Homo sapiens: one gene and its partners. The protein of the gene in region 5 purifies or fractionates together with the protein of the main gene of each other region. This does not show direct contact. Each region holds a gene or a part of one and is shown on either strand. Other genes may lie near its edges.

Region 1 (4,488 bases), on a different chromosome or scaffold from region 5:
GCACTCAATAAATCTGTTTGAAATATTAATAATACATTTTTAAAACCATCACAGAATTTTTTCTAGTACACTTTTCTAATACATTTAAATAAAAATGTATTATTTAGTGTCTTATTATGGTAGTAAGTTATAGACTTCAGTGTAAACTTATACTGAGTCATGTTTAAAAGCCTCCACATCTTTGGACTATGATCATAGCATTCTTTTTAGGTCATGCACTATTTAGAAATAAGTTTTGGTTTTGTAAATTTAAGTTAGTTACAACCAGGATAATTTTGCTTAAACTCTTTAAAATATAGTTGTGTGCTTTATTTCTTGGTTGTATGTGTATCATTTCTTGTTCTGTGTGTATCATTTGTTATTTGAACTGTTTACCCCATCTAACAAAGTGATGTTTGTTTCTTGCAAAATCTCTCTAGATGAGTACTGGCAGAATCACCCAGAACTACATGACATTCCAATATACTATGCATCATCTTTGGCCAAGAAGTGTATGGCAGTGTACCAGACATATGTAAATGCCATGAATGACAAAATCCGCAAACAGATCAACATCAATAATCCCTTTGTTTTCAAACACATTAGTAACCTCAAGGTGAGTGCTTGTGGAAGAAAGACAAGGATGGATAAAACCAAATCAGTCATTAGTAGTAGGAGGTACGAGGCCGTGAGTGATGGCTCACAGCTGTAATTTAGCACTTTGGGAGTCTAAGGCAGGAGGATCACTAGAACTCAGGAGTTTGAGACCGGCCTGGGCAAGATAGTGAGACCCTGTCTCTATCAAAATAAAATAAAAATCGTAGGCAGTGCTTGTCAGTGACTCTGGCTGAATTCCTCTTGCTGGAGTCTTACCGCTTCTCAACAGGTGTCGTTTTTCTGCAGAAAATCAAAACTTCAGCAGCTGACATTCTTTTTCTGCTTCAACAGATTTTGCCACTTGCCCCAAGTAGCCATGTGTTCTCAGTATTTATAATACTCATCTCTTTTGCCGTAGGCATAAAAAGTTCTGAGGAGAAAAATATTTTGTATTATGTATTTAAGTTTCTCTTCTCACTCAAACCAAATCATCTTTTTGATTAGTGCTGCAAATTCTATATATGAAAATTTTTATATACTTTTCTGGAAGCATTCAATAAAATCTGATTTTATTTAATTTAAAAAATACTGTTTAACTCGATGCTTGAATCATAATAAAATAATTGATATCCGAAATAATTTAAAAGTGGACTTCCAGTTGTAAATAGGCTTTGTTCATAAAGTATTTATTTTAAGTTAACTGCTTAAGGATTGTAGACAAGTTCTCCCTAGAACAATGTTAAACCTTTTGATTTCCAGGCCAGCTCAAAACATGCATGGAGCATGCAAAGCTATTGTGAGTCTTTGGGAATATTTTTTCAGAGTTGTGTCTTGGGTAGATCAAGACCCATTTGACTCTTCCTTTTACTTTTCTGCCTGCCTGCTAGGCGCTGAAGATGGTCCTGATGGTTCTGATGGCCCTCTAGCTACCAACAGAAGGTTTTGAAGATCGGGGTGAACTTACCGCTTTTTATTACTTGGTTTTTCTACCATTCCTAGCCTAAACTGTTTAGGAATTTGGCAACTGAACTTAAAATGTTTACAGATCTTGTGAAGGCTCTTTCAGTGATGTGATTAATCTCTTAGCCTTTTGTTATTCTTTAAAAAGAAAGAATGCTTTGTCAGCTGCTGGTAGCTAACATACTTTTCCCATTCTGTTTTCTCTCTTAGAGCATGGATCATTTTGATGACATTGGTCCCAGTGTTGTAATGGCCTCCCCAGGCATGATGCAAAGTGGCTTATCCAGAGAATTATTTGAAAGCTGGTGTACTGATAAGAGGAATGGTGTCATTATAGCGGGATACTGTGTAGAAGGGACACTTGCCAAGGTCAGTTACAGTCATAGGCTGTTGTGTTATTCCTATTCAGAATCACGGAGGTGGCACGGTCCTCACAGGTTTTTGCACTGAAGTAGTTCTTCAAATAATACAAGTTTTGATTTTTAAAAATGAGGACGGGAATAGGTAGCTAGAGATGTGCGTAGGATGTAGAATTATGCAGACACTGAATGGCATAATGAGGTCCCAGGTGATTGATATACACATTAAAGTTTGAGAAATGCTCATCTGGTTGCAAGTAGAGAAGAATGGACAGGAACCTGTTTGAGACAAACACGTGAATACTCTCCGTCCTCTCATGAAGAAGAGGTTGACTAATACATATGATCTTAAAAAGCTGTAGAATGTGTTTGGGTTGACCACTTTCTACTATTATGAAACATTGATTTTCAGCTCTTAGGGATGTAGAAATTGTAGAAAATATATGCAGAACTTGGGAGGCAGTTTCTGAGCATCCAGGCATCACATTCTCATCCTCTATTTTATTTTTAAAAATATGATATGATTCTTTGATAATCTTTATTACTTTACCTTATTCTATAAAGTTCTTTAGTGACAATGTTGTATTTAAAATAGATTTCCAGGCTGGGTGCAGTGGCTCACACCTGTAATCCCAGTACTTTGGGAGGCCAAGGCGGGCGGATCACCTGAGGTCAGGAGTTCGAGACCAGCCTGGCCAACATGGCGAAACCCCGTCTCTACTAAAAATACAAAAAATTAGCTGGGCGTGGTGGCGTATGCCTGTAATCCCAGCTACTCGGGAGGCTGAGGCAGGGAGAATTGCTTGAAACTGGAGGCGGAGGTTGCAGTCAGCCGAGATTGGCGCCACTGCACTCCAATCTGGGTGACGGAGCAAGACTCCATCTCCAAAAAAAAAAGAAAAAAAAAATTTCCAGGCCTGGCACAGTGCCTCACATCTGTAATCCTAGCACTTCAGGAGGCCACAGCAGGTGGATCACTTGAGCTCAGGAGTTGGGGACCAGCTTGGGCAACATGGAGAAATCCCATCTCTACAAAAAATACAAAAATTAGCCAGGTGTGGTGGCACGTGCCTGTAGTCCTAGCTAGTTGGGGGACTGAGGCAGGAGGCTTGCTTGAACCCAGGAGGTCGAGGCTGCAGTGAGCTGAGATCGCACACTGCATTTCAGCCTGGGTGACAAAGTGAGACCCTATTTGAAAAAACAAAGATTTTCAGAATAGAAATATATCCACATATCTAGGAAATGACTTTGGAGAGCACAAGAATAGTTGGGAATACAGGTTTGTCTTTCTAAGCATAAGAGTTATGATTCTCACTGCCAGCACTCCAGATAGATGAGTTTTAGTTAATTTGTTTACTTTTCTCATTAAATGTTTGCTTGATTGAGAACATGAGTATTTGATATTTACTGAGTCAGTTATATTAGAATGATTTTGTGCGTAAGGTCCTAAATTTAACATGAATTTATGACTGCATGAAAAAAATGAAAATGTACCTTTACGATTATAACTGGGTAGTTTGTTTTGTTATTTTTCTTTATTTTCCACAGCACATCATGTCTGAACCTGAAGAAATCACTACTATGTCTGGACAGAAGTTACCACTGAAAATGTCTGTTGATTACATTTCTTTCTCAGCTCACACGGATTACCAGCAAACCAGTGAATTTATTCGTGCTTTGAAACCGCCTCATGTGGTTAGTCTATGAATTTCATTTATTGTATTAAAGGGAAAAAAAGTGCATACCCAGGAAACTGTGCAGCAGGCAGTTCACAAAGCAGGCATCATCACCTACTAATGCGACACCCCCTGAGCAGAGCCTTTCACATGCACTCGGATTTGGCCTTTACAACTCCCCTTTGATTTCAGCAAGCTGCCCCCTTTCTCCAGAACTGACTGACTCAGACCTACCAACCCCAATCCTAATGTTTTTCTGTTATTTTCTGCTGCCTCTCCAATAATTTAAGAGCCAGGCTTGGAGTATGACTGCTCATTTGGAATGCCAGCTCCATCTCTTACTTACTATGTAACCCTTGGCAAGTTACTTAACCTCTCTGTACCTCATTTGTAAATAGGAATAATAGCTCATAAGGTTATTGTAAGGATGAAGTGAAAGAACATATCTAAAGCACTTAATATGGTGCCTGGCACATAGTAAATGCTTAATATATATATTATATATATATATATATATTTTTTTTTTTTTTGAGGCGGAGTCTTGCTCTGTCACCCAGGCTGACTGCAACTCCGCCTCCCGGGTTCAAGCAGCTCTCTGCTTCAGCCTCCTGAGTAACTGGGATTACAGGTGCCCACCACCACACCCGGCTAATTTTTGTATTTTTAGTAGAGATGGGGTTTCACCGTCTTGGCCGGGCTGGTCTTGAACTCCTGACTTCATGATACACCCGCCTCGGCCTCCCAAAGTGCTGGGATTACAGGCGCGAGCCACTGCACCCGGCCGACTTACTTATATTTTTAAGTATCGTGTAACTTATTAAAAATAAGTTAGATATTTTGATGGAATTGGAAAGGAGGGGTAAGCTGAAAAAAGTGTGTATTTTTAATTAGAAGAACACTAATGAAGCATGTGTCCA
Region 2 (4,488 bases), on a different chromosome or scaffold from region 5:
CATGCCATTCATCAGAAGCATGTTTACTTTTAAACAAATAAAGTAGTAGTTTGTAAACATCACCTAAAATAATGTTACTTTCATACCATAAATGGTATTTGAATAAAACAGTTAATTCTACATTATTCCCTCATAAAATATACTGTGCTGATAATTGTCAAATGTCTATATTATTTCAAAAGCCAATTTTACTCTACAGTATATGACATTTAATATGATCAACTTTTGATATACAGCAGAGTTCAAACTTGACAGCAAAGTTGAAAACTAGTTAAAAGCTTTAAAAAGATTTAAAATTTAGAGTGGGAAAAATATACTAATGAAAAAGTAATTCCTTAATGAAACAGAAATAGAGAATCTTTATCTTGATGCATGTCTAGCTTGTCTTAATTTTATCTGATGAAATCTTGTTTGAAACTAGCTCTATTATCATACTTGGTTTTTTTTTGCAATCACAAAAATGAAATTTGTGTAACATTATATACATAAATATTGCCTGTAAAAAATGAAGATCAAGAAAGCATGGGACAGTGTACTTGATGACAGTAAACACCTTAAATGTGAAGGTAGTGTTGAAGTGCCTCATAAAGATGAGTGGATATACAAGACTTACATAATATTGTTAGGATTTATCTCTTTTAGAAATTTGTCAGTGACTTATCAAATTGGTGAAAGTTTTACTGCCCTGGCTCATAAGTACCTTAATTTAATGGAATGTAGTTATGACAAAATTTGGAATTTATTTTTGATTATAGAAGACATACCACACAATACATGTGCTGAGAGTTTTTTATTTATTTTATTTTTATTTTTATTTTTGAGACAGGATCTCGTTCTGTCACCCAGCTTGAAGTGCAGTGACGTGATCTCGGCTCACTGCAGCCTCTGCCTCCTGGGCTCAAGTGATTCGCCCATCTCAGCCTCCCAAGTAGCTGGTACTATAGGTGTGAGCCATCATGCATGGTTGATTTTTATATTTTTTTGGAGAGACGGGGTTTTGCCATGTTGCCCGGGTTGGTTTTGAACTGCTGGACTCAAGCAGTCCACCTGCCTTGGCCTCCCAAAGTGCTAGGATTACAGATGTGAGCGTCTGTGCCTGGCCTGAGTATCATATATTTTACACATTAATCATACTGTTTTCCCTTCCCTGTAGTTGCTACCTTAGGGATTCTTTAAGGAGGTGTTTGTTCTCCATTTCAGAATTTTCATTGAACAAATTTTATGCAACTTTTGGATTTTTAAAAAATTTGTTAAACATCAGGCACACTGCATTGGATTAATCACCTATCTGTCTGTCAATCATTTTAATAAGTACTCATGGACCACCACTCCCCCTCTCTCAAAACAAGCTAGGAACTTTAACCTACGTATAGTTTTCCTCTATTCTATCCGTCTATTTCCACCTTCTTGTCATCTAGGTCATCATTTTTGAGTCCTGTGTTCATTCTCTTCCTTATATAGTAGTCCCTCCTTATCCACGGTTTCAGTTACCCATGGTCAACTGTGGTCCAAAAATAGGTGAGTACAGTATAGTACTATAAGATATTTATAAGTACTAAGATACTTTGAGAGAAACCACACTCATAACTGTAATTACAGTATAGTTATAATTGTTCTATTTTATTATTAGTTATTGTTAATTGCTTACTGTGCCTAATTTATAAATTAAACTTTAGCATAAGTATGTATGTTAAAGGAAAAGTGTAAATAGAGTTTAGTACTGTTCGTGGTTTTAGGCATTTACTGAAGGTCTCTCGGTGGATAAAAGGAGACTACTGTGTATAGTTTAGTTGGACATATAAATCTAAACATCTTTTAGTTGTTTGTATAGAATTGTGAATATAATCTTTTTGAACTTGATTTTTCACCTGTTATAAATAAGATTTATCCACATTTTTGCATGTTGCTATAGTCATTATTTAAATTGCTATATAATATTTCATTGAGTAAAATATTCATTAACTCTACTTTGGTGGATATTTGGATATTTATCCACTCTCCCTTGTTGGGCAGTTATTTTCCATTTTTTGTTTTGTTTTGTTTGTAATTATAAGCAAAGATCCTATGGACAGTCTGCATGTTTCCTACTGTGCATGTGCCACAGTTCCTATTATATACCTAGAGGTAGCATTGCTGCCTCACAGGGTAGGTGAATGTTCAACTTAAGAGATGATGCAGAACTTTCAATATGGTTGCACCAATTTATATTCATATTAGCAATATATGAAATAAAAGATCCTTTGGTTATCCATCCTCTCCAACACTTGATATTCTCTTTTTAAGTTTTACAAATCATAAGGGTGTAAAATGTTGCCTTATTGTGGTCTTGATGCGCATTTTCCTGGTTATCACTGATGTAGAACACTTCTTTTTATGTTTGTCGGCCTTTTTACGTGGCTTCTTCAGTGAAATTCCTATTTATGTCTCTTGCCTATTTTTGTTTTTCTTACTAGTTTATAAGAGTTCTTTATATTGCTTATGTTAATCCTCTGTGTACATTGTGAATGTCTTCTTTCAGTTCCTAACTTTTTCGCTTTCTTTTATGGAGTTGTGTGGGAGGGACAGTTTTAAATGCCTCTACCTTCTTTGGCAAATATTTGGAATAATTTACATCGTTATCATCAACAGGCTTGTATTTAATATCTATTGTACATTTGGTATAGAAAGGGTAAAGTTATATTAATAGTTTATGGCCTGGGGATTTGTAAACTATCCAAATGAACAGCCATAGGAAGTTGTATAAAATATTGTATTGCTTCACACATGCTAGGCACCCAAATGCTAGGTTGATTTAGTTAATGAGTAAATTCAGAAGCAAAGAAATAGCAAAAATTATACATACACTTCATCAGTTGCTTATTTTCCAATTCCATACCTCTCTGTTGCAAACTACTTATTATTAGTCATTAATAATATTTTATTCTTTTGTTTAAAGGGCAGTATATTCCGTAAGATTATGTGAGTCAGTTATTTAGGTATTTTCATAGCTTGCCATTAAAATGCTGGAGTTGATCAGATTTAATACTGGATATAAAGCAAAATATTAATCTTCTGAACAGTTTACTAGTTCAGAAGTTTACAAACTCGGAATCCTAAATACAGTTTTTGTCATTGCTGTGCATCTTTTGATAAAAAAAATTCTTAAGTCAAATTTGTCCATTGTTTATCATACAGTAAGTCCTCACTTAATGTCATTGACGGGTTCTTGGAAACTGACTTTAAGCAAAATAACTTATAATGAAACCAGTTTCTTTTTTCTCATCAGTGTTCTAAGGAAATGATATTATAAACAATGAAACATTAGCCAGAAGTGGTGATGCACACCTGTAGTCCCAGCTACTTTGGAGGTGGAGGTGAGAGAATGACTTGAGCCCAAGAGTTAAGGCTGCAGTGAGCTGGAATCGTGTCATTGCACTCTAACCTGGGCAGCATAGTGAGACCCTGTCTCAAAAAAAGAAAGAAAAGAAATGATATTGAGCGAAACAGCATTATTAAAGGACCTGAAGCACATTGTTTTTCTTAAAGTCTCAGTTCCAAGAACCTATCAGCAGTGTTAAGTGAGGACTTACTGTAATTGCTTTTCATGCCCTTTTAAATAAATTATTCCCTATCCTGGGTTTAAAAGATAGCTACCCAAGTTTGCTCCTAAGAATCTTGCAGTTTTATTTTTTAGATTTAAGTCAGTTTATCTGGATTTGTTGTTTTTTAATAGACTTCATATTTTAAAGCAGTTTTAGGTCCACAGCAAAATCGAGAGGAAGGTCTAGAGATTTCTCAAATAACTGCGTCCCTACATATGTACATATGCATTATCGACATCCTCCACAAGAGTACATTTGTTGCAGTTGATGAACCTATATTGACACATCATCATCATCCAGAGCCCAGAGTGCACACATCTTGGTGTTGTGCATTCTATGGGTTTGTACAAATGTATAATGACATGTATCCAGCATTATAGTATACAGAATAGTGTCCCTGCACTAAGCTTATTCTCTGTGTTCTACCTATTCATCCTTCCCTCTCCTCCATCCCCTGGCAACCACTGATCTTTTTACAGTTTCCATAGTTGTGCGTTTGGGAAAATCTCATGCGGTTGGAATCATACAGTGTGTAGCCATTTTACATGGGTTTCTTTCACTTAGAAATAAGCATTTAATTTTCCTCCATGTCTTTTCATAGCTTGATAGCTTATTTCTTTTTAGTACTGAATAATATCCCATTGTCTGTATGTACCTTAGTTTATTCATTCACCTACTGAAGGACATCTTGGTTGCTTCTGTTTTGGCAGTTATGAATAAAATGCTATAGACATCCTATGCAAGTTTTTGTGTGGATGCAACTTTTCAACTCCTTTGGTTAAATACCAGGGTGTCCAATTGTATGGTAAGAATATATTTAGATTTGTAAGAAACTCCCAAACTGCCCTCCAGAGTGCCCGAACTATTTTGTATTCCTACCAACAATAAGAGTTTTTGTTGTTCCACA
Region 3 (4,488 bases), on a different chromosome or scaffold from region 5:
CTGCTGGTCATAAGTCCATTCCAAGTGAAGTCATCTCCTTCCAAAAGCCAGAGGAATAATGAAGTCACTGAAACAGCCTTGAGTTGAGGTGTCCTTCATATACCTCCACCTACATATGGATATGGTGACATGGATTCAATATTCGAACCTTGTTTATTAAATAATTGCAGTTTCTTCTTTACTAAGGCCTCTCTTAGTCATTTTAATAACTCTCCAAGTTCACCACTGAAGATTAAAGACAAACTGCTAAGATTTAGTCTTCTTTTAATGTGTGGCAAGTTAACTAATGGGAGGAAGTTTTTATTCCCGCCCATAAATGAGCATACTGTCTCTTAAAATAGCTTGTACACACTGCCTTTTTAAAAGAATCATTTTACACTGAAGACGACAATCTCTGGTTATCACTGTTTTTAAATCCTGGAGACATCTCTGCAGTCCATCTGAACTCGGCCAAGCATTGCTCAAATTGCTCTACCGTCTGTAGGTTCTGCCTTAAGAGATTCCTGACAAGAAGCGGTTTCAGCCTCTTCTGGAGGAGACCTCTATAACAATCAGCTGAGGCTGCTGAATGAGGGGGAAGGGCACATTTGTAGCAGCTTCTCTTACTCATGCTTTGTAGACTTCCTTTCCTGTCACAGCTCTTGGTATTTTTCCACTCCAACCCAGGGGAAGCCATTCTCCTGTAAATATTACTCCCTCTTTAAACTCCAACCTAAAGTGATGGTGAGGCTTCAGTTTATATGGCCTTCCCTTTGACTTTTTTTCTCAAATATATTTAATTGTACAATTATATCCTTACTGTGTAGCTGACTGGTAGCTCAGTATCACCAGCAGTCTGAAATAGAATCTCATAGCCTATTAAATAAAACTGTGGCTCTCAGCAGATTTCTAGCATGTGGTTTTGGCTAATCTCCTGGAATATATTGGAGAAAAGTACCAAGAGACATTTCAGTTGCTCTGTTCCTAAACAGTACCAAAATAACTTGAGTGTTTTGAACACTTTCAAATAAACAGCATGGATCAAATTTCAAAGGAGAGACTCATGGAAAGGTAACTTTCACAATCCCTTTGTTCCTTGCCTTTGCTCTGATGTCACAGGCTGCCGGTGTTACCATAGCATGAGTTAAATTTCCTGTTTTCTCTCGAATGAATGTATTTGACTTAGTGTCTGGGCTTGTTTTATTTCCTTGGGCTTAGTAAGGACACTCAACAGTACTCTCAGGTAACCTTTTTTTTTTTTTTTTTTTTTTTTTTGAGACGGAGTCTCGCTCTGTCACCAGGCTGGAGTACAGTGATGCGATCTTGGCTCACTGCAACCTCCGCCTCCCGGGTTCAAGCAATTCTCCTGCCTCAACCTCCAAAGTAGCTGGGATTACAGGTGCCTGCCACTGCGCCTGACTAATTTTTGTATTTTTAGTAGAGATGGGGTTTCACCATGTTGGCCAGGCTGATCTCGAACTCCTGACCTCAGGTGATCTGCCCATCTAGGCCTCCCAAAGTGCTGGGATTACAAGAGTGAGCCACTGCTCCCAGCCACCTTTTATTTTTCTTTGAGAGAGGGTCTCACTCTGTCACTCAGGCTGGAGTGCAGTGGCATAGTCACAGCCTACTGCAATCTCAACCTCCTGGACTCAAGCGATCCTCCCACTTTAGCCTCTTGAGTAGCTGGGACTACAGACACATGCCAGTATGCCTGGATAATTTTTTTTTCTTTTGTAGAGCCGGGGTCTCACTATGTTGCCCAGGCTGGTCCCGAACTCCTGGGCTTAAGAGGGCCTAAGAGAAATGAAAAGGCATTGCTCTGGCAAGGCTGAGGAGCAGTATATCTGCACTCGATTTTGGTTAGCTCTGAGAACCATGGTAATTTGTGAATTCTAGCCACCTGTTACCATGTGAGAAGGAGTGGGCCTTGTACTCTTTTCTCCAGTTTTTCAAGAAAAGCCAGAAATTTGCACTTTAATGGGAAATCTGTGTTGTTTTAAAATACTGTATAGTGACACCATTGAAAATGGTGGCATAGGACCTCCAAAAAAGGAATGAGAACTGTATTAGTCTGTTCTTGTACTTTTGTAAAGACATACCTGAGACTGGGTAATTTAAAAAGAAAAGAGGTTTAATTGACTCATGGTTCTGCAGGACATACAGGCTTCTGCTTCTGGGGAGGCCCCAGGAGAATTATAATCATGGCGGAAGGTGAAGGGGAAGCAAGCACGTCTTATATGGCAGGAGCAGGAGGAAGACAGCGAAGAGGGAGGTGATACACACTTTTAACCGGATCTCATGAGAACTCTATCATGAGACAGCACTAGGGAGATGGTGCTGAACCATTAGGAACAACCCCCATGATCCAATCACCTCCCACCAGGCCAGACCTCCAACATTGGGGATTAAAATTCAACATGAGATTTGGATGGGAACACAGAGCCAAACCATATCAAGAACATTGGCAAAAATGATCAGAATCAGCTTTTTCAGAACTCTGGAAATTAACCAAAGGCTTGCAGCAATCTGGGGAGCATTTATTCAAGAAAAACATTGAATCTCAGTAAGAACATTAAGAATTGTGGCATTTTAACTTGCCCTGTTCCCATGCTGCCTTTTCCCAGATCAGCTGTAGCCTGGACAACCGATAGCCTGCAATCACAGTGAAACCAGGAGGCTGGCAGTTACTGCAAAAGGGAGAACAGAGGTGATACTCCTCATAGACCATCCCCAGAAAATTGTCATTTGACTGGTCTGATGGTTTCCTAAAATTGTCCATTCACAAGGCTGTCTTTATTTGACCAACACAAGTCAGTAAGGAAAGAATAGTCTTCAGTAAATGGTGCTGGGATAACTGGATATCCACATTAAAAAAAAAAAAATCCCTATCTCACACCATATATGAAAATTAACTCAAAATGGACCAAAGTCCTAAATGTAATGCTGAAACCATATAACTGTTAGAGAACATAGGACTGGATTTTTGCGACCTTGGGTTAGGTATTGGTTTCTTAGCTATCCCATCAAAATCATAAGTGACAAAAATTAAACTTGACTTAGCTAAATTAAATACATCTATGTTTCAAAGAGCACTATTAAGAAAGTGGGGGCCAGGCACGGTGGCTCACGCCTGTAATCCCAGCACTTTGGGAGGCTGAGGCAGGCGGATCACCTGAGGTCAGGAGTTCGAGACCAGCCTCAACATGGAGAAACCCCATCTCTACTAAAAATACAAAAAAAAATTAGCCGGGCATGGTGGTGCATGCCTGTAATCCCAACTACTCGGGAGGCTGAGGCAGGAGAATTGCTTGAACCTGGGAGGCGGAGGTTGTGATGAGCCGAGATTGTGCCATTGCAGTCCAGCCTGGGCAACGAGAGCAAAACTCCATCTCAAAAAAAAAAAAAAAAAAAAGAAACTGGAAAGACTTCATCAATGTAATGAAAAACCAAAAAAAAAAAAGAGAAAAGGTAAAAAGACTGCCCATAGAATTGGCAAAATATTTGCAAATCATATACCTGATAAGATTCTAGTGTTCGGCAAACATAAATAAAATAACAACCGTAAAAAGACAACCAAATTTAAAAATTAGCAATAGATTTAATTAGCCACTTCTCCAAAGAAGTTATACAAATGGGCAGTAAACACATTAGTCATTACGGAAATGCAAATTTAAAACTACAATGGCCGGGTGTGGCGGCTTACACCTGTAATCCCAGTACTTTGGGAGGCTGAGGCGGGCAGATCATTTCAGGTCAGGAGTTCAAACCAGCCTGATCAACATGGTGAAACTCCGTCTCTACTAAAAAATACAAAAATTAGCCGGATGTGGTGGCACACTCCTGTAGTCCCAGCTACTCAGGAGGCTGAGGTGGGAGAATCACTTGAACCTAGGAGGTGGAGGTTGCAGTGAGCAGAGATTGTACCACTGCACTCCAGCCTGGGCAACAGAGTGAGACTCTGTCTCAGGGGAAAAAAAAAACCACAAAACTACAATGAAATACCATTTCACACCCACTAGGATGGCTATGATAAAAAAGATAGACAATACCAAGTATTGGTGAGGGTGTAAAAAGATTCGACCTGTCATACACTACTGGTGTGAATGTAAAACTGCAGCCACTTTGGAAAACAGTTTGGCAGATCCTCAAAGTTAAATGTATAGTTACTGTGTCCTCAAGCAAATCCATTCCTATGTATATACCTAACAGAATTCAAAACATATATTCACACAAACTTTTTTTTTTAGACAGTCTCGCTCTTTCACCCAGGCTGGAGTGCAGTGGTGCAATCTCGGCCTCAGCCTTCTGAGTACCTGGGACCACAGGCAAGCACCACCATGCCCAGCTAACTTTTGTATTTTTAATTTTGCCATGTTGGCCAGGTTGGTCTCGAACTCCTAGCCTCAAGTGATCCACCTGCCTCAGCCTCCCAAAGTGCTAGGATTATAGGCATGAGCCATTGCACCTGGCCACACACAAACTTATATACAAATATTCATAGCATTA
Region 4 (4,488 bases), on a different chromosome or scaffold from region 5:
TTCATGTGGAGGAAATCTTTTGATGAATATTGGGCCCACACTAGATGGCACCATTTCTGTAGTTTTTGAGGAGCGACTGAGGCAAATGGGGTCCTGGCTAAAAGTCAATGGAGAAGCTATTTATGAAACCCATACCTGGCGATCCCAGAATGACACTGTCACCCCAGATGTGTGGTAAGTCATTCTTGTTACCAAGTACTCTTTTATAAAGGAAGAGATTTAAAATTTATCAGACATATAAAGAAGAGTAGGATAAAAAGAGAAATTGGATGAATTCCTACATATACAAAGCACTTTCCAAACTTTGCTTACTCTAATATAAAGAGAAGGGGAAGAATTTGCATGTTTTGAAACATTTATTGTTTATCAGATTGAGCTTACATCATTTCTAGGTATCTCCCAGTAGTGGACAAATTTTGGCTGAAAGTACTCAGCTCTTAGAAAAATTGTAAGCTGTTCAGACCAATGAAAAATGCTGAATGGTTAGTCTAAAACGGAGATTACTGTTTAACCAGTTCGGTAAATTCTGACTTTTGCAGATGTTGCATCCCATGAAATTAGCAAACAAGAGGTACCCAATGGCAGAGAAAATGTTAGATTAAAAATGAATCAAAATAGGGAGGGTTCAGGGAAGATGCTTCTCTCTGAGCTTGAGGAGGTTCTGTGTGTCAATGAGTACCCGAATCAGACTCCACAAATATGACAGTTTCTGATATGGTTTCTTAACATATATAAAATAAGATGAGTATTGGTGAAGTTCTAAAAATTCGCTTTCAGTTGCCACCTGAGTACTGTCTGATCAAATAGGAACCGAAAGATTAGACTAATTGTTCTTCAATCTACTTGACTTATGACTTAAAACATTAACAACCCATTGAATAAAATGGAGTAAGGCAATCTGGACAGAGCAAATAATTGTGGAATTTTAAAATGTTGATCTGGGAGAAGCCATAATGAGAACTCAATACCAATCTCTCATGTGACAGAGAATAGTAGAAATCTGGTTTTGGAATTTGCTTCTTACTTTTGAATACTTACATTTGAATATGAGGGTATCTGATCTGGGACTTCACAATCATTAACCATTATTCTATTGTGTTTATTTCAAGAAATAAACATAAAAGCTAAATATTTAATGTGGCTTATAAAACTGTGAGTCTGGCTCCTACCAACTTCCCTGCCACTGAGTGGTCCTGCTCTCCCTCCTCACCATAGGAGCCTTCTTCCCCCAGGGTTCATCATGCCCACCTTCTTGCAGTCACCTACAGACTCCCAGGTCAACCCTTAAAATCCTTTGAGAGAGCCCTGGCTTGCTGTCCCTGTCCCCAGAACTACTCTTCACATAATTCTTAGAGATTTAAATTTTTATTCACAGTTCTAATTACCTGCACCTCCTGTCTTCTAGGGGTCTTGTCCGCTTGACCTTTGTTACCTGTTCCTTTGCATTATCAATATACAAGGTCATATTGGTAATGCAAAGTCGAACTTCTTACTCAACACTTCCACTTGGATGCATAGCATCTTAGACCTGTACGTCCACAACTGAAGCCCTGAGTTTTAAATTTTTGCTGTAGACTAGCTCCACCCACGGTCTTCTCCATCTCAGTTAATGGCAGCTTTATCCTTTAGGTGGTTGTCAGGCCAAAAACCTTGGTGTCCTTAACTTCCCTTTCTTTTATAAACATACTTTAGACTTTGCATTACCAATAACTGAACCCCTTCCACGGCTCCAGTTTGAAGGATTCTGCCATCTACCTACCACTTCTTATATTTTGGCTCACTCTGCATGGCACTTCGGCTTCCAAAGGGATCTATAATCCAGTGATCATACTATCTTTTAATCCTATCATCTTTTCTCTGTCTTTTTCCTTATCCGGGACAGATTCTGTGGCCCATCACTGTAACTAATCTATTGCATACACCCAACTCCTGAACCCTTGCTCCCTCTGCCATACTCACTTGACGGAACATCAACTTTAAATACAGATCTACTTATTCCATGCCTGCTTCTGGACAGCTAACTGTTAACTATGGAAACACACACACACACACACGCACCCAGACACATACAATGTAAAATTATCTCACTTTTGGCTTTAAGGTCAACCCTTGTGTCCTGATCCCATTGCAAATCATCCACCCAAGGATTGTTATAGCAATTCTCCCCTTTAACTCAATTTCACTTGCATTTCTAGTGATCTTCCCATTTCTCTCCTTTCCTTTGTAGTAAAACGTCTTGAAAGGATTGTTTTCACTTGCTATCTCTAATTCCTTGCTACAGTTTTTCTCTTGAACCCCCTCTGGTCGAGCTTCCACCCCCACACTCCAGAATTGCTCTTCTCAAGGCCCACAATAACATCTGCCTTGCCAGTTCCAGTGATGAGTCCCCAGTGCTCATTTTCTTAACTTACTGGCAGTGTCTGCCTCAGTTTATCACTGTCTCTCCTGGTGTTTGTCGTACCTTTTGGCTCTTCCTTCTTAGTTAGTTCCTTTGCTGATTTCATCTCATTTTTCCAACCTCTAAATCTTGAAGTGCCCTGAGGTTTAGTCTTTGGACTTCCATTCTTCTCTATCTTTTTTTGAGTGCACTGGTGCGATCTTGGCTCACGGCAACCTCCACCTCCCAGGTTCAAGTGATTCTCCTGCCTCAGCCTCCTGAGTAGCTGGGATTACAGGTGTCCGCCACCAAGCCTGGCTAATTTTTTTGTATTTTTAGTAGAGATGGGGTTTCACCATGTTTGGCCAGGCTGGTCTCGAACTCCTGACCTCAGGTGACCCGCTTGCCTTGGCCTCCCAAAGTGCTGGGATTACAGGCGTGAGCCACTGCGTTTATCTTAATGTCCCAGGTGATCTTATCCATTTTCATGGCTTTAAATGCCATATTGATGATCTCCACATTTCTATTTCCAGTGCAGACCTCTTTCCGAACTCCAGCCTCAATAACTTCCTACTCAGCATTTCCACTTAGATGCATAGCATCTTAGACCTGTACATCCAAAACTGAAATCCTGAGTTTTAAAATTTTGCTATCAACTAGCTCCACCCATGGTCTTTCCCATCTCAGTTAACGGCAGCTTCATCCTTTAGGTGGTTGTCAAGCCCAAAACCTTGAAGCCCTTAGTTTCCCCTTCTTTTATAGTCACAGCCAACCCATTAGCAGATATCATCCTCTGCATCTTTGAAATATATTCAGAATCTGTCCACTTCTTATCCTCTCTGTGGCAACCCTCATCCTTTTAGTTTCCATTGTCTCGCCCCTGCCTGGATTATTTCAGTAGCTTCTTAATAGGTCTCTATTTCTACCCTTTAACCTATTCACCACAAAGCAATCAGAGTATACTTTTAAATAATAATGCCACTCCCATGGTCACATTTCTCCAATGGCTTCCAGTCTCAGAGAGAAGGCCAGGTCCCATAGATGCTTACAAGGGCCTATAAAATCTGGCTCCTATCGCCTCTCTGATCTTATCTGCCATCACCCTCCCCCACTTCCTCTCCTTCAGGCACTCTGCCTTGCTAGTGCATCAACAGGCAGAGCACACTCTTGCACTGGGGCTCCTGCACTTGTCATTCTGTCTGGAAGGTTTTCCCCAGACGCTCCCGTGGTGCTCTTATGGCGCTCCCATGGTTCTCTTCCATGCCACCTCTAAGAAGTCTTCCCTGACTATTCTGTTTAAAATAACACTCCCAGGCCCCTCCTTTCCTACCTAGCATGCCCTGTCCTTCTAACCTGGCTTGTTTTCTCCATAGCATTTAATCAACACCTGACATATTTGTTGATTCTAATTTCTTCCACTAGAATGTAAGCCCCATGAGGACAAGGACTTTGTTCAATGTTGTATATAGCTCTAAAACAGTGTCTAGCATTTTAAGATTTCAATAAGTATTTCTTGAGTAATTGAATGAATAAATGAATGAAATCCACTTTTTTTTTTGTCCACAGCATACTTCCCTTACCTTCTTCTTTGCTCCCATTCATCCTTTAAGTCTCAGATTAAATGTTATGTTCCTGGAGAGGCTTCTTTCTGATGTTCTAATCTAAAGAGATCCTTTTGTTATAATCTCTCAATTTCCTTTTCTTTCATGGTGCTTATCAGAACTCACACTTTCATATTATTTGTGTGATTGTTTAGTGTCTGCTTTCCCCACTCTAGTCTAAGCTCCATAAGAACAAGGACTATGTGTGTTTTGTTTTTTATTGTAACTCTAACACTGAGCACAGTACTAGGCACAGAATTGACACATGCATATCTTGTCTTGTTGAATGAATGAATGAATATAAAAATTTGAATAATACATGAAAAGCCATGAAGCTCTTGCATCCTGTCCCCTTAGATCATCTCCCTCCCCTTTTCAGCTCCATGAGAGCAGTCTGATGAAGAGGAATGCTAGCTCAGGAAAATCTTTGTCTTCCAAGAACTTCCTTTTGGTCTTGGGGGAGGAAGGTGTTTTTTTATACCACCATGAGGCTATTTTTCCTTCCCTTCT
Region 5 (3,500 bases):
GTCTTGCTCTGTTGCCCAGGCTGGAGTGCACTGGCATGATCTCGGCTCACTGCAACCTCCGCCTCCCAGGTTCCAGCTATTCTCCTGCCTCTGCCTCCCAAGTAGCTGGGACTACAGGTGCGTGCCACCATGCTTGGCTAATTTTTCTATTTTTTTTAAGTAGTGACGGGGTTTTACCATGTTGCCCAGGCTGGTCTCAAACTCCTGACCTCAGGTGATCCATCCATCTCAGCCTCCCAAAGTGCTGGGATTACAGGTGTGAGCCACCAAGCCCGGCCAAAACCCAAATCTAATCACTACTCTTGGCCTTATTTCAATTGACCAGGTGTGATGGCTTACGCCTGTAATCCAAGCACTTTGGGAGGCTGAAGTGGAAGGATCACTTGAGCCCAGGAGTTCAAGACTAGCCTAGTCAACATAGCAAGACCCCCATCTCCATTAAAAATTTAAAAATTAACCAGATGTGGTGGCGCATGCCTGTAGTCCCTGCTACTCGAGAGGCTGAAGCAGAAGGATCACTTGAGCCCAGGAGGTGGAGACTGCAGTGAACCGTGTTTGCACCATTGCACTCCAGTTTCAGCAACAGAGCGAAAACACGTCTCAAAGAAAAAAAAAAAAAACTTTTAAGTGGCTTCTCACTGCTCTAAAACTCTTTAGCATCCCTTACAGGGCCCGGATGCCGTGGCCTCTGCTTCTCTCTGTTTTGCCTTCTCCACTCCAGCCACAATGACCACTTCCAGTTCCTCATCTATACTGGGCACCCTCCTACCCTAGGGCCTGTTGCTTCTGCCTGAAACCCTCCTCTCCTCCGCCCCATTTAAGTTAACCCCTCCTTCTTCAGATCTGAAGGCAATCATCACTTCCTCAGAGAAGCCTTTTTAAGCTATCTATTAGTAGTGGCTATTTCTTTTGTAGGACTAATCACAGTTATAACTTTACTGTTCTATGTGACATTAATTGATCAATATCAGCCTCCCTCATTAGACTGGAAGTTCTGCAGGAGAAATCATGTCTACTTTTTGCTTCCCTCACATCCTCAGCTCACAGAAAAGTACTTATAGTTTAAAAGGAACTTGGTATTTACTAAATGAGCAAACAGTAATGAGAAAAGATGTTTAAAGCAGTAATATAGAATTTGTGGTGAGGGGACCGTCAGCTTGGAGATATGTTCACAGCATTAGGACTGGGTTGTAGGGATAAGAGAAACTCAGGAGTTGCAGTCAGTGGGCTCAGCTGCCCAATTTTAGACGTCAGGGCAGCATGAAGATCTGGAGTGAGGGCAGCGTGCTACTGACTTTGCGTGACCTTGAACAAATGACTTCATTCCTCTGAGCCTCAATTTCCTCATCTGTACGTGGAGATAATATTAGTACTGGTGGTTGTGGGGATCAAGTTAAATGAGATAAAGCACGTAAAAGCATGTATTCTAGGCCAGGTTTGGTGTCTTATGCCTATAATCCCATTACTTTGGGAGGCTGAGATGGGCAGATTACCTGAGGTCAGGAGTTCAAGACCACCCTGACCAACATGGCAAAACCCTGTCTCTACTAAAAATACAAAATTAGCCGGGCATGGTGGCACACACCTATAATCCCAGCAACTTCAGAGGCTGAGGCAGGAGAATTGCTTGAACTCAGGAGGTGGAGGTTGCAGTGAGCCGAGATCGCACCATTGCACTACAGCCTGGGCAACAAGAGCGAAACTGTCTCAAAAAAAAAAAAAAAAAAAAAAAAAAAAACACTTATTCTAGCCCTATAGTAAACATTTGACTTTGAGCAGCTCACTGACCTTAATTTAGATTAATTCCTAAATTTTCTCCTGTAAGGTATCTGCTATGGCCCAGGTAAAATTAATGTTCAAGGGCATAGAGCTAGTTAATTTTAGGGTCAGGGCTTAAGAACCTCCAGGTTCCTAGTCTGTTGTTCTTTTGTGGACACCACACTGCTACCTGAGAGATGAGTTTCAAACACCGGACTGGGAGTCAAGTGACTTGGATTCTGTTCCCAGCTCTTCCACTCATCACCCATGGGACAATTCCCCCAATACCTGTCATTTCCTGCCTTACGGATATAATGTATTTGACAGTGCTTCGAAAGACGACACCATATAAATAACTGACACTATTTATATCTGGAAAATGAGATTACTGGAAAATTCCTCATTTTCTAACAAGGAAACGAGAAATATGAGATAGCTGCTGCTTTATTTTGTTTGGCATCTTCTCCCTTATGACACAACATGATGTAAATGTTTTCATTTTCCTGAGAGGCTATACAGTTTGCAAGTGGTTGCCGGAAACACTCAGTAATGCTTTACTGATAGGTGTTCCCAGCATGTTAATGTTCTCCTTGCTGAAATGTCGAAGACCCAAACTGTTTCGTGGAGATAATCAAAGTATATCTTTGTCTTTTTTTTTTTTTTTTTTTTTTTTACTGATTCTATAGCCATTTTATAAGCCTTGGTGATTGCTCCTTAGACCTTTCATGGTTGGAAAAACAGTGTTATTAGGGTAAACCAGAGTTGTGCTAAACAGCAGCTGCCATCATGGTACACACAGAGACAAAGGTTATGAAGCCTTACCCTTGAATACAAACTTCCTCCTTTGTTGTGTTCAAACCAGCATGATTACAAAGTTTAAGTATTGTCTTCATATTATGAGTCTATTTCAATGGAAAAATTAACAGAATGGTTTTCTTTTTCAGCTAAACAGAAAGAATTTACTGACAATGTGAGCAGTGCTTTTGAACAAGGTACTTTCTTTTCTTCACTTTCTTAAATATGGAAAGAAATTTCAAGCACTGAAGCATAGCCATTCATTCAATAACTAGCTATTATATACCTTCCTATGATAGCTATATAGGGAGATATGAAATACTTATGAGTCTACATTTCTGTCTTTAAAAAAATGCCTTTAAGAATCTACATTTCTGGCCAGGCACGGTGGCTAATGCCTGTAATCCCAACACTGGGAGGCTAAGGCGGGCGGATCACGAAGTCAGGAGATTGAGACCATCCTGGCTAACACGGTGAAACTCTGTCTCTACTAAAAATACAAAATTAACTGGGTGTGGTGGCACAACGCCTGTAGTCCCAGCTACTTGGGAGGCTGAGGCAGGAGAATCGCTTGAACCAGGGAGGCGGAAGTTGGAGTGAGCTGAGATCGTGCCACTGCACGCCAGCCTGAGTGACAGAGCGAGACTCCATCTCAAAAAAAAAAAAAAAATCAACATTTCTGCCTTTCTAGAGAAACAAACTATATCAAAAAAGTGATCTGGGAACAGTGACTCACGCCTGTTATCCCAACACTTTGGGAGGGTGAGGTGGGCAGATCACTTGAGGTTAGGGGTTTGAGACCAGCCTGGCCAACATGGTGAAACTCCAGCTCTACTAAAAATACAAAAATTAACTGAGTGTGGTGGCATGTGCCTACAGTCCCAGCTACTCAAGAGGCTGAGGCCAGGAGAATTGCTTGAACCAGGGAGGCTGAGGTTGCAGTGAGC
Region 6 (3,335 bases), on a different chromosome or scaffold from region 5:
CCTTAGAATGGAAAGAGGAGGTTAGTACTGTTCTGTACCAAGTACTGTAACTTGGCACATTGACATGTAAGTTTAGGCATGTACTTACAGAAGATCTTATAAAAAAGACAGGCACAGTGGCTCATGCCTGTAATCCCAGCACTCTGGGAGGCTGAGGTGGGAGGAACACTTGAGCCCAGGAGTTCGGGGTTACAGTGAGTTATGATTGTGCCACCATACTGTAGCTTGGGTGACAGCGAAACCCTGTCTCTAAAAATACATGGAGAGGCCAGGCGCGGTGGCTCACGCCTGTAATCCTAGCACTTTGGGAGGCCAACGCGGGCAGATCACTTAAGGTCAGGATATCAAGACTAGCCTGGCCAACATAGTGAAACCCCATCGCTACTAAAAATACAAAAATTAGCCGGGTGTGGTGACGAGCAACTGGGGAGGTTGAGGTGGGAGTATCCCTTGAACCCACGAGACGGAGGTTGCACTGCACTTCAGTTTGGGTGACAGAGCAAGACTCTCTCTCTCAAAAAAAAAGAAATACATATAGATATAGATAGATGTATAGATAGATAGATATATAGAGAGAGACCAATCCTGTCTCTAAAAAAATATATATATGTTTATCTTAGATCTAATAAAGGCACATTGTATATGACTTACAGCTTTTATATTTACTAATATAGCTTCTATATGTCACGTACAGTGTGCCTTTATTAGATCTAACAGAAATGTTTTCTCCCCAAGTAATAGTAAATAGTTTGAAGCTATTTTAAGTTTCTAAAGTCATACATCTGACTTTAATAAGCACAAAAACTAAGTCTTCGTTTCTCACGTGTGGACTTCCCTGTAGGCCATCTCCCCGGTTGTTGTGCACAGCCACGAAACAAAAGAACAGTGGCCAGAACCTGGAAGAGGACATGGGTCAGAGTGAACAGAAGGCAGATCCTCCTGCTACAGAGAAGACCCTCCTGGAAGAGAAGGTCAAGTTGGAGGAACAGCTGAAGGAGACTGTGGTGAGGACTGTGAGGCTCCTGTGGGGGCGGGCTCGGCTGAACTGTTTCTCTCCTGGGCCACATAAAGGTTCCAGGTTTCATTGGTGACAGACTAAAGCCAGAGTTAAGCCGTTGTCCATGGCCTGCAGTGGGCCCAGGTGGCAAGTTACTGCCAAAGCAAAGACTAAAACCCAAATCCTGTGCAACTCTGGTTCTGGCAAGAGACTAATCTTTACACGCTGTTATTTGTCATTGAATGAAAACTTAAAATCATCTTTACAAATGAGGAATGCTCAGTATGGTTGTTTAGGCTGGGACTTAGGAGAGGAAGCAGAAAATTGCAAGTACAAGAGTTGGGAGCAGGAGTGTGGTTTTATGTGATGCTCTCATAGGCAGGTAGGAGTTTTATGAACTAGTAACATGGATTATTACTCCATGTGAAAACACATAGGTGGCACAAATCAAGTTCTTTAAGGATTTGAGAAAGACATCAAACCCTGAGTGCTGGCACCATTCCAAACCCGTTACATATGTTAATCCTGGCTGCCAGGTGCGGAGCCAGGGCTCGAACTAGAACCCCCTGGACTTGGAGCTCTTGCTCCTTGCCACTGTACAGTGATTACCTGAAGACTGAAAATGGATGCAGTATAGAGGCCCCCACAGAGCAACTTAGTAAATGTTAAAAAGAGAAAAGCTAGCTGGGCGCAGTGGCTTACCCCTCTGATAGCACTTTGGAAGGTTGAGGCAAGAGGATTGCTTGAGCCCAGGTGTTCAAGACCAGCCTGGGCAACATAGTGAGACTCCATCTCTAAAAAAAATTAAAAATTAGCTGGGCGTGGTGGTGCACTCCTGTAGTCCCAGCAACCCAGGAGGCTGAGGTGGGAGAATTGCTTGAGCCCAGGAGGTTGAGGCTGCAGTGAGCCGAGATTACACCACTTCAACCTGGATGATAGAGCAAGACCCTGTCTCAGAAAAAAAAAAAAAAGGCTCAGATGAGTGAGCTTACCGGAAGGTGGTGAGACATGAGGAATATACTAGAACTCAGATGATGATTACACAAGGAATGTTTGAACTGAGCCACCTCTGGGTAACACAGCATAGCAAAAGATCATGAGTGCAGCTTTTATTAAGCTTTCATTAAGCTGCCCTCCTTAGTCACATCTCAAAGGCAGTGATATTACTTCTGTTTTGACTTGTAGTTAGTTACACAGCCGTTTTCCAATCAAGCTCGCTTTCCTATGACTTTGTTCCATATTAATATAAATCTCCCGGCCAGGCATGGTGGCCCACACCTGTAATCCCAGCACTTTGGGAGGCCGAGGCGGTCGGATCACAAGGTCAGGAGATGGAGACCATCCTGGCTAACACGGTGAAACCCTATCTCTACTAAAAATACAAAAAAATTAGCTGGGCGTGGTGGCAGGCGCCTGTAGTCCCAGCTACTCGGGAGGCTGAGGCAGGAGAATGGCGTGAACCCAGGAGGCGGAGCTTGCAGTGAGCTGAGATCATGCCACTGCACTCCAGCCTGAGCGACATACAGAGCAAGATTCCGTCTCAAAAAAAAAGATATATATATATATATATATATATAAATATCCCTTTTTTTCTCTTTTAGGAAAAATATAAACGAGCTTTGGCAGACACTGAGAACTTACGGCAGAGGAGCCAGAAATTGGTGGAGGAGGCAAAATTATACGGTACTTTCAACATAACATGGTGTTGATTCCGGAAAGAAGATAATGGGGTGGGGAAGGGGAAGGCCATGCATACGGAAGTGTCAGAGAGCAAGGCTGTGGGGTGGGGGGTCCAGCTGTTGCATCCCCTGCATTTTTTTTTATGATGGCTCAACAGCAAAGGTGTCTGGAGGAGCAGAAATCAAGTAGCTGAGACTAGCATGAAGAATTGTAAATAGGTGTGTCCTCCCCCACGCAGAGACCTTGGTGGGAACCTGCAGCAGGTCAGCCTCTGATGCCCATCCCCTTAGCCCTCCGGAAGTAACACTGGCATCACTTCAGAACTCCCAGCATGCTATATGCATTGCCACCTTTGGATGTTTTTGTTACTGTCCTTCCCATTTTACAGTTGAGATCATTGAGGTTTAGTCACCTGCCACACATCACAAAGCTGGTACGTAACCCCAGGCTCCCAGCTCCACAGGCTGGTTGTTTGAGTGCTGGCTCTGGATCTCTGCGTGACTGACAGTGGGTATTAGAGATGTGGAACCTAAGGCTCGAGGGAGGGTAAATGGCCTTGCCTGGGTCAGACGGTGAGAGGCCACATGGAAACTAAGAGCTAGAGTCTCTGTCGCATTCACAGAGACTGAGGCGCTCATTGAAACACTTTTTTTCCTGG
Region 7 (4,488 bases), on a different chromosome or scaffold from region 5:
GGATGCAGAGAGCTCGTGTCGCTTCTCCCTCATCCACTGAAAGTGGCCTCAAAACCTGAATTGGTTTCACTTAGCCAGCGTAAGCGGGAACGGTATTTGGTCATTGTTTCTGAAAGAGGTTTCTTTCTTTTTTATTTTTAAATTACAGGGAGAAAAGGCCAGTATCTGAAACAGAGCTGTGGTATATTATGTAGAAAAATAGCAATCTGAACCGCTAACACACACAAGCCTTCATATTTGTACAGAGTCTGGTGATATGTTCCGTCTCTTCCAGGCATGCTTTTAACAGAACCTCTGGAGTTTGAGATCATAGCTCGCTCTCAGAAAAGACTCTTACTCTTTTTACATGATTTATAGTGGAATCATTGATTTAGACAAGTGGGCAGAATCGGAATACAAGGCAAAAAAGAGCCTCATCAGTATCTCAGTGACAGGCAGACATAACGTTCCCTCCCGTTCAGAAATCACTGGGCTTCCGGTCACAAGGCTGTGCCAGGGCAGCACCCCACGTGGCTGGCTCCATTCCTCCAGGCAGGTCCATTTGCTGGGTGCCTGGGTCTCGCCTCTGCACCTGCCTCTCCCACGGTGCGGCGTGCCCTGCCACACTGCCGACTCTGCTGAGGCCTCCAGGCTCCAGGATAGCCAGCACCCATCCCTTGACCCAGTGGTGCCCCTTTAGGCTGTCCCCTCAAAGTCTCAGGGCCTGGAAGGACCCCTACAGAGTGAGGAGCCAGGAAATATTTGTGAATTGTTGGCAGTGCAATTTTTACATCCCAGAGGAAGAACACAAATCTTTTAAAAAGAAAACCTCACTGGTCAGCTTCGGAAACCATGACTTTGATACTGGTGACTGAAGCACGAGCCAGGCACTCCCCTTCCTCATGTGAGTCATTCCGCTGGGTTGCAGTGAGGGCAGGTCTCTCTTTACAGAATTGTCCCAGCTCATCATGAGCAAACGGTGAGAGATGACACGTCACCATTTCACTGCAGCCCTGGTGCATTAATGCATTTAGGTCGTGATCACTAAGGAGAGAGGCGTCGCTTGCCTCTGGGTGGAAGCATGTTCCACTACCTACAAAGTAATGTCACCAAACAAATCAGACAAGAATCTAGATCTGAGTGCCCTGTTACAGAAATGCCAGGAGTCCGGGATGTTGTCAGTCAAACCCAGAGAAGGAAAGTGCCAGGACCCACCAGCAGTAACCAACAAGCCTCGCTGGGATCTTGATTCAAACAAACTTTAAACGAACAAATAGGGACTTTTTTTTTTTCTTAAGGTGGAGCCTCCCCCTGTCGCCGGCTCACTGCAGCCTGTGCCTTCCGGGCTCAAGCGGTCCTCCCACCTCAGCCTCTCCAGTAGCTGGGACCGCAGGTGTGCGCCACCAACGCCCAGCTAATTTTTTGTATTTTTTTTTTAGAGACAGGGTTTTACCATGTTGCCCAGGCTGGTCTCAAACTCCTGGGCTTAAACGATCTGCCCACCTCGGCCTCCCAAAGTGCTGGGATTCCAGGCATGAGCCACCATGCCCAGTGGAGAGCCTTCATCTTTCAGAGGCAAAGCCTGGTGGGTTTTGTGTAGAAATGACGTGCTGAGATTTGTTGTGGGACAGTTCTGAAAGTGGGTGGAGACTTTGGCAAAACAGGATTCACCTTGAGCTGATAATTATTGATCCAAGAGGTAGAATGTGTGGGATTTGTTACATTTTTATCTCTATTTTATTTGCATGTTAGAAATTTTCCATAGCAAAAACTTTAGAGATAGGAACAAAAAAATTTATGGTTCCTTTTAGCCTCCCCAAAATGGCATAGGTGTTCCAGGGTTTGCGGGCAGTGTCTGGGATGGTGTTGGAAACCACTTCACATGTGTCTGTGCACGCATCCTTGCCTTGAAAGACCCTGCTCAGATGCTGCCAGTACTCGCTGGAGTGAGAACACGGGAATGTTTTTGCCAAACAGCCTGGACCGTATCTGATTAATCTGCACGTACTTGCTTGCTGTCCTGACTTAAGTGCCGGCCGCTGACAGCCGCGTCTGTTACCAGCGCTTTCATCCATCAGGGTGTCATTTAATTAGGGGCCCACAGCCTTGTCCCTGCTCCGTGATGTGCAGGTTCAGCACAAATCCGCTTGTTCTGTGACTATCTGTGGTAGGAGAGGCATCGTGCTGTTGGTGGAGTTCTCTCTCCTAGCTCCACATAGACGCTCTGTGTGATGAGGGCCTAACTGATGACCTAGAGGGGGCAGGTGGGCTGGTCTCGCAGGTGGCCGCAGCCTGGAGTGGGGACTGCTGGGTCCTGGGCTTCCCGGGAGTCCAGTGCTCACCACACTGAAGGTCATGCTCCTGCTTTTCAGACTGGGCCAGTGCCATTCGCGTCGCAGCTCTGGACTGCATGGAAGAGAAGAACCAGGCCGTGTGCCATGACTACGACATCCACTTCTACCCCACCTTCCGGGTGAGTATCACGCGGCTGCTTGTCCGTTGAAATTCACCTTCTACCCCACCTTCCAGGTGAGCATCACGCGGCTGCTTGTCTGTTGAAATTCGCCACATCATAGTGCCTGTGTTTTCGGCTTCTCTGGCTCTCTCCTTGGAACTTCGTAGGAATTGTAGGAGCTGATGTTTGGTGGGGGCAGCTCTTGTTCCACCCTGTTGTGCTGTGGAAGTGTCTGTGGGACTGTCCACGCTCACACAGACCCGGTCACATGGAGGGGATGCGTGAAAAGACCCCCTGCAGCCTGCACGGCCAGGGGGCGCAAGGAGACCAGGACTGCGAGGGCTGGCACCCCAGCCTGAAGCCACGCGTGTGGTCCGTGTACCATGGGGCTCTCACACATGCACACTCATGCACACACACACGCACACACAGGCACAGGGCCTCTGCCTTCCCCAGCCAAAGTCAGCCCTGCAGACAAGGCTGTGCCCATTGCTCCCACTAGGGGGCGGAGGTACCTGTGACCCTGTTGCAGGCCCGTGCATAGCATGTGTGTACCTGCGGGTGCCACTGCCTCCTGCGTGCCTTGACATGGACATCTCCAGAAACGTGGGCGCCTTGGGCCCACTTCCTGGGAAGCTTTGTCAATTTGAGTAAAACTCCGTCCTTGTCAGCCCTGGTGCCTTGCTGTGTGGTGTGGTGTCATGTCATGGTGGCTTCGCTTGTATTTTGGGGGCTGTTGTTTTCACTGTGCTGGCAGCACCTGTGGTCCTGCCCTAACAGGTGCCACGCTGGGCGGCACCGGTGTCAGCCCTGCCCCAGGGCCTCTCGGGGCCTGTGTCGCACACTTGCTTGCCTGCCTCTGCGTGTGATTACGTCAGCATGGCTTCCTGTTGTATTTTGATTTTGCTTCAGACACAGTTCACACTGTGCTGTATGTAAACTTTCGGGCCCTCTTTCTGTTACTTAATGGGACATTGCCCAGATCCACTACGATGCTCATTGGATGGGATTGTCCAGTGACGTCACTCTGAGAACCAGAGCCCCCCGTTGCCAGGTGTGTGGGCTCTTCCAGGCTTTGGTGGCTTTGAACGGCGCTGCTGTGCGCCTTCCCGGGCAAGGGGAGAGCTGAGGCTGGGAGAGAAGCCACTGGGCCGCGAACCGGGTCTGTGCACAACAGACCTGCAGGGCCAGCAGTGTCAGGCAGTTTTGTGCTCGCCCAGGGACCAGTGCAGCAGGAAGCACTGGCGGCTTCGTTTGCATTTCCCTGGCGGCTGCAGTGCCAGCACATCTGGCTTTGTGGGCCGTGGGTGTCATGGGTGAAGTGTCTTCCTGTCATCTGCACGTTTCCCTCTTAGCTGGCCAGTGCTTTTCTTACCGACCTCATCTCCGCCATCATGTAACCTTGTCTCGTCGCTGTCTCTAACGTACCCTTTGATGAAGAAAGTTTTTAATGTTAACATAAGAACCTAATCATCCACTCAGAGATACTGCGTGGTGTCTCCTCCTCCTGCACATCCTCCGTGTTGTCACAGCTAACGCTACAGCTAACCATTAAGACATAGGCTCACTACCAAGTCCCAGAGAGCGGTGTCTTTTATGATTCCAGCCCAGTTGAACTGTCTTGCTTCTAGCCCTGTTGGGTCAGAAAATGTAAATGATGGGAATGCTGATTGGAGCTAACCTTAGCCCCCTCGTAAATCTGACAGGAAACATTAATATGCACAAAGACAAGGAGAAGCGTGTGGTTTGTCATTAATTTATGAAAACTTTCCGAAGGAAATTGAGTAAAGCTCCCTCTAAGGTGACGGGCGTTTTGTTGCTTAAACACATGCAGATGCCCATGGAAGGCTGCCTCTTACTTGTTCTGTGTTTTTCCTCTTAGTATTTTAAAGCATTTACAAAGGAGTTTACAACTGGAGAAAATTTTAAAGGTAAGGACATAAGCATTGTATTTTAGTCCCTGAGATTCCCCTCATAAACCTGCTAAAGACACACGGTCCCAGAGCCTGGGGAGCTCCCAGCCTGGGTCAGCACCTTTCCCTCTGCTGACCTTC

What was found.
Region 1: the proteins of HSCB (region 5) and CPSF3 purify together in Homo sapiens (affinity purification with mass spectrometry; one large-scale study listed by BioGRID and IntAct). This does not show direct contact.
Region 2: the proteins of HSCB (region 5) and PKN2 purify together in Homo sapiens (affinity purification with mass spectrometry; one large-scale study listed by BioGRID and IntAct). This does not show direct contact.
Region 3: the proteins of HSCB (region 5) and ARG2 purify together in Homo sapiens (affinity purification with mass spectrometry; one large-scale study listed by BioGRID and IntAct). This does not show direct contact.
Region 4: the proteins of HSCB (region 5) and FUCA2 purify together in Homo sapiens (affinity purification with mass spectrometry; one large-scale study listed by BioGRID and IntAct). This does not show direct contact.
Region 6: the proteins of HSCB (region 5) and GRPEL1 purify together in Homo sapiens (affinity purification with mass spectrometry; 2 studies listed by BioGRID and IntAct, with this or other methods). This does not show direct contact.
Region 7: the proteins of HSCB (region 5) and QSOX2 purify together in Homo sapiens (affinity purification with mass spectrometry; one large-scale study listed by BioGRID and IntAct). This does not show direct contact.

What each region holds. Positions count from the first base shown.
Region 1 is NC_000002.12:9,440,072-9,444,559, forward strand, and holds part of CPSF3 (cleavage and polyadenylation specificity factor subunit 3), read left to right. Parts: intron 1-419; coding exon 420-595; intron 596-1,746; coding exon 1,747-1,905; intron 1,906-3,443; coding exon 3,444-3,590; intron 3,591-4,488. UniProt on the Homo sapiens protein: Component of the cleavage and polyadenylation specificity factor (CPSF) complex that plays a key role in pre-mRNA 3'-end formation, recognizing the AAUAAA signal sequence and interacting with poly(A) polymerase and other factors to bring about cleavage and poly(A) addition.
Region 2 is NC_000001.11:88,690,263-88,694,750, forward strand, and holds part of PKN2 (serine/threonine-protein kinase N2), read left to right. Parts: intron 1-1,461; exon of another isoform or gene 1,462-1,518; intron 1,519-4,488. UniProt on the Homo sapiens protein: PKC-related serine/threonine-protein kinase and Rho/Rac effector protein that participates in specific signal transduction responses in the cell.
Region 3 is NC_000014.9:67,622,307-67,626,794, forward strand, and holds part of ARG2 (arginase-2, mitochondrial precursor), read left to right. Parts: intron 1-3,560; exon of another isoform or gene 3,561-4,488. UniProt on the Homo sapiens protein: May play a role in the regulation of extra-urea cycle arginine metabolism and also in down-regulation of nitric oxide synthesis. Extrahepatic arginase functions to regulate L-arginine bioavailability to nitric oxid synthase (NOS).
Region 4 is NC_000006.12:143,497,618-143,502,105, reverse strand, and holds part of FUCA2 (plasma alpha-L-fucosidase precursor), read left to right. Parts: coding exon 1-174; intron 175-4,488. UniProt on the Homo sapiens protein: Alpha-L-fucosidase is responsible for hydrolyzing the alpha-1,6-linked fucose joined to the reducing-end N-acetylglucosamine of the carbohydrate moieties of glycoproteins.
Region 5 is NC_000022.11:28,748,539-28,752,038, forward strand, and holds part of HSCB (iron-sulfur cluster co-chaperone protein HscB isoform 1 precursor), read left to right. Parts: intron 1-2,702; coding exon 2,703-2,750; intron 2,751-3,500.
Region 6 is NC_000004.12:7,061,730-7,065,064, reverse strand, and holds part of GRPEL1 (grpE protein homolog 1, mitochondrial precursor), read left to right. Parts: exon of another isoform or gene 1-182; intron 183-841; coding exon 842-1,004; intron 1,005-2,598; coding exon 2,599-2,680; intron 2,681-3,335. UniProt on the Homo sapiens protein: Essential component of the PAM complex, a complex required for the translocation of transit peptide-containing proteins from the inner membrane into the mitochondrial matrix in an ATP-dependent manner.
Region 7 is NC_000009.12:136,224,738-136,229,225, reverse strand, and holds part of QSOX2 (sulfhydryl oxidase 2 precursor), read left to right. Parts: intron 1-2,351; coding exon 2,352-2,452; intron 2,453-4,316; coding exon 4,317-4,365; intron 4,366-4,488. UniProt on the Homo sapiens protein: Catalyzes the oxidation of sulfhydryl groups in peptide and protein thiols to disulfides with the reduction of oxygen to hydrogen peroxide. May contribute to disulfide bond formation in a variety of secreted proteins.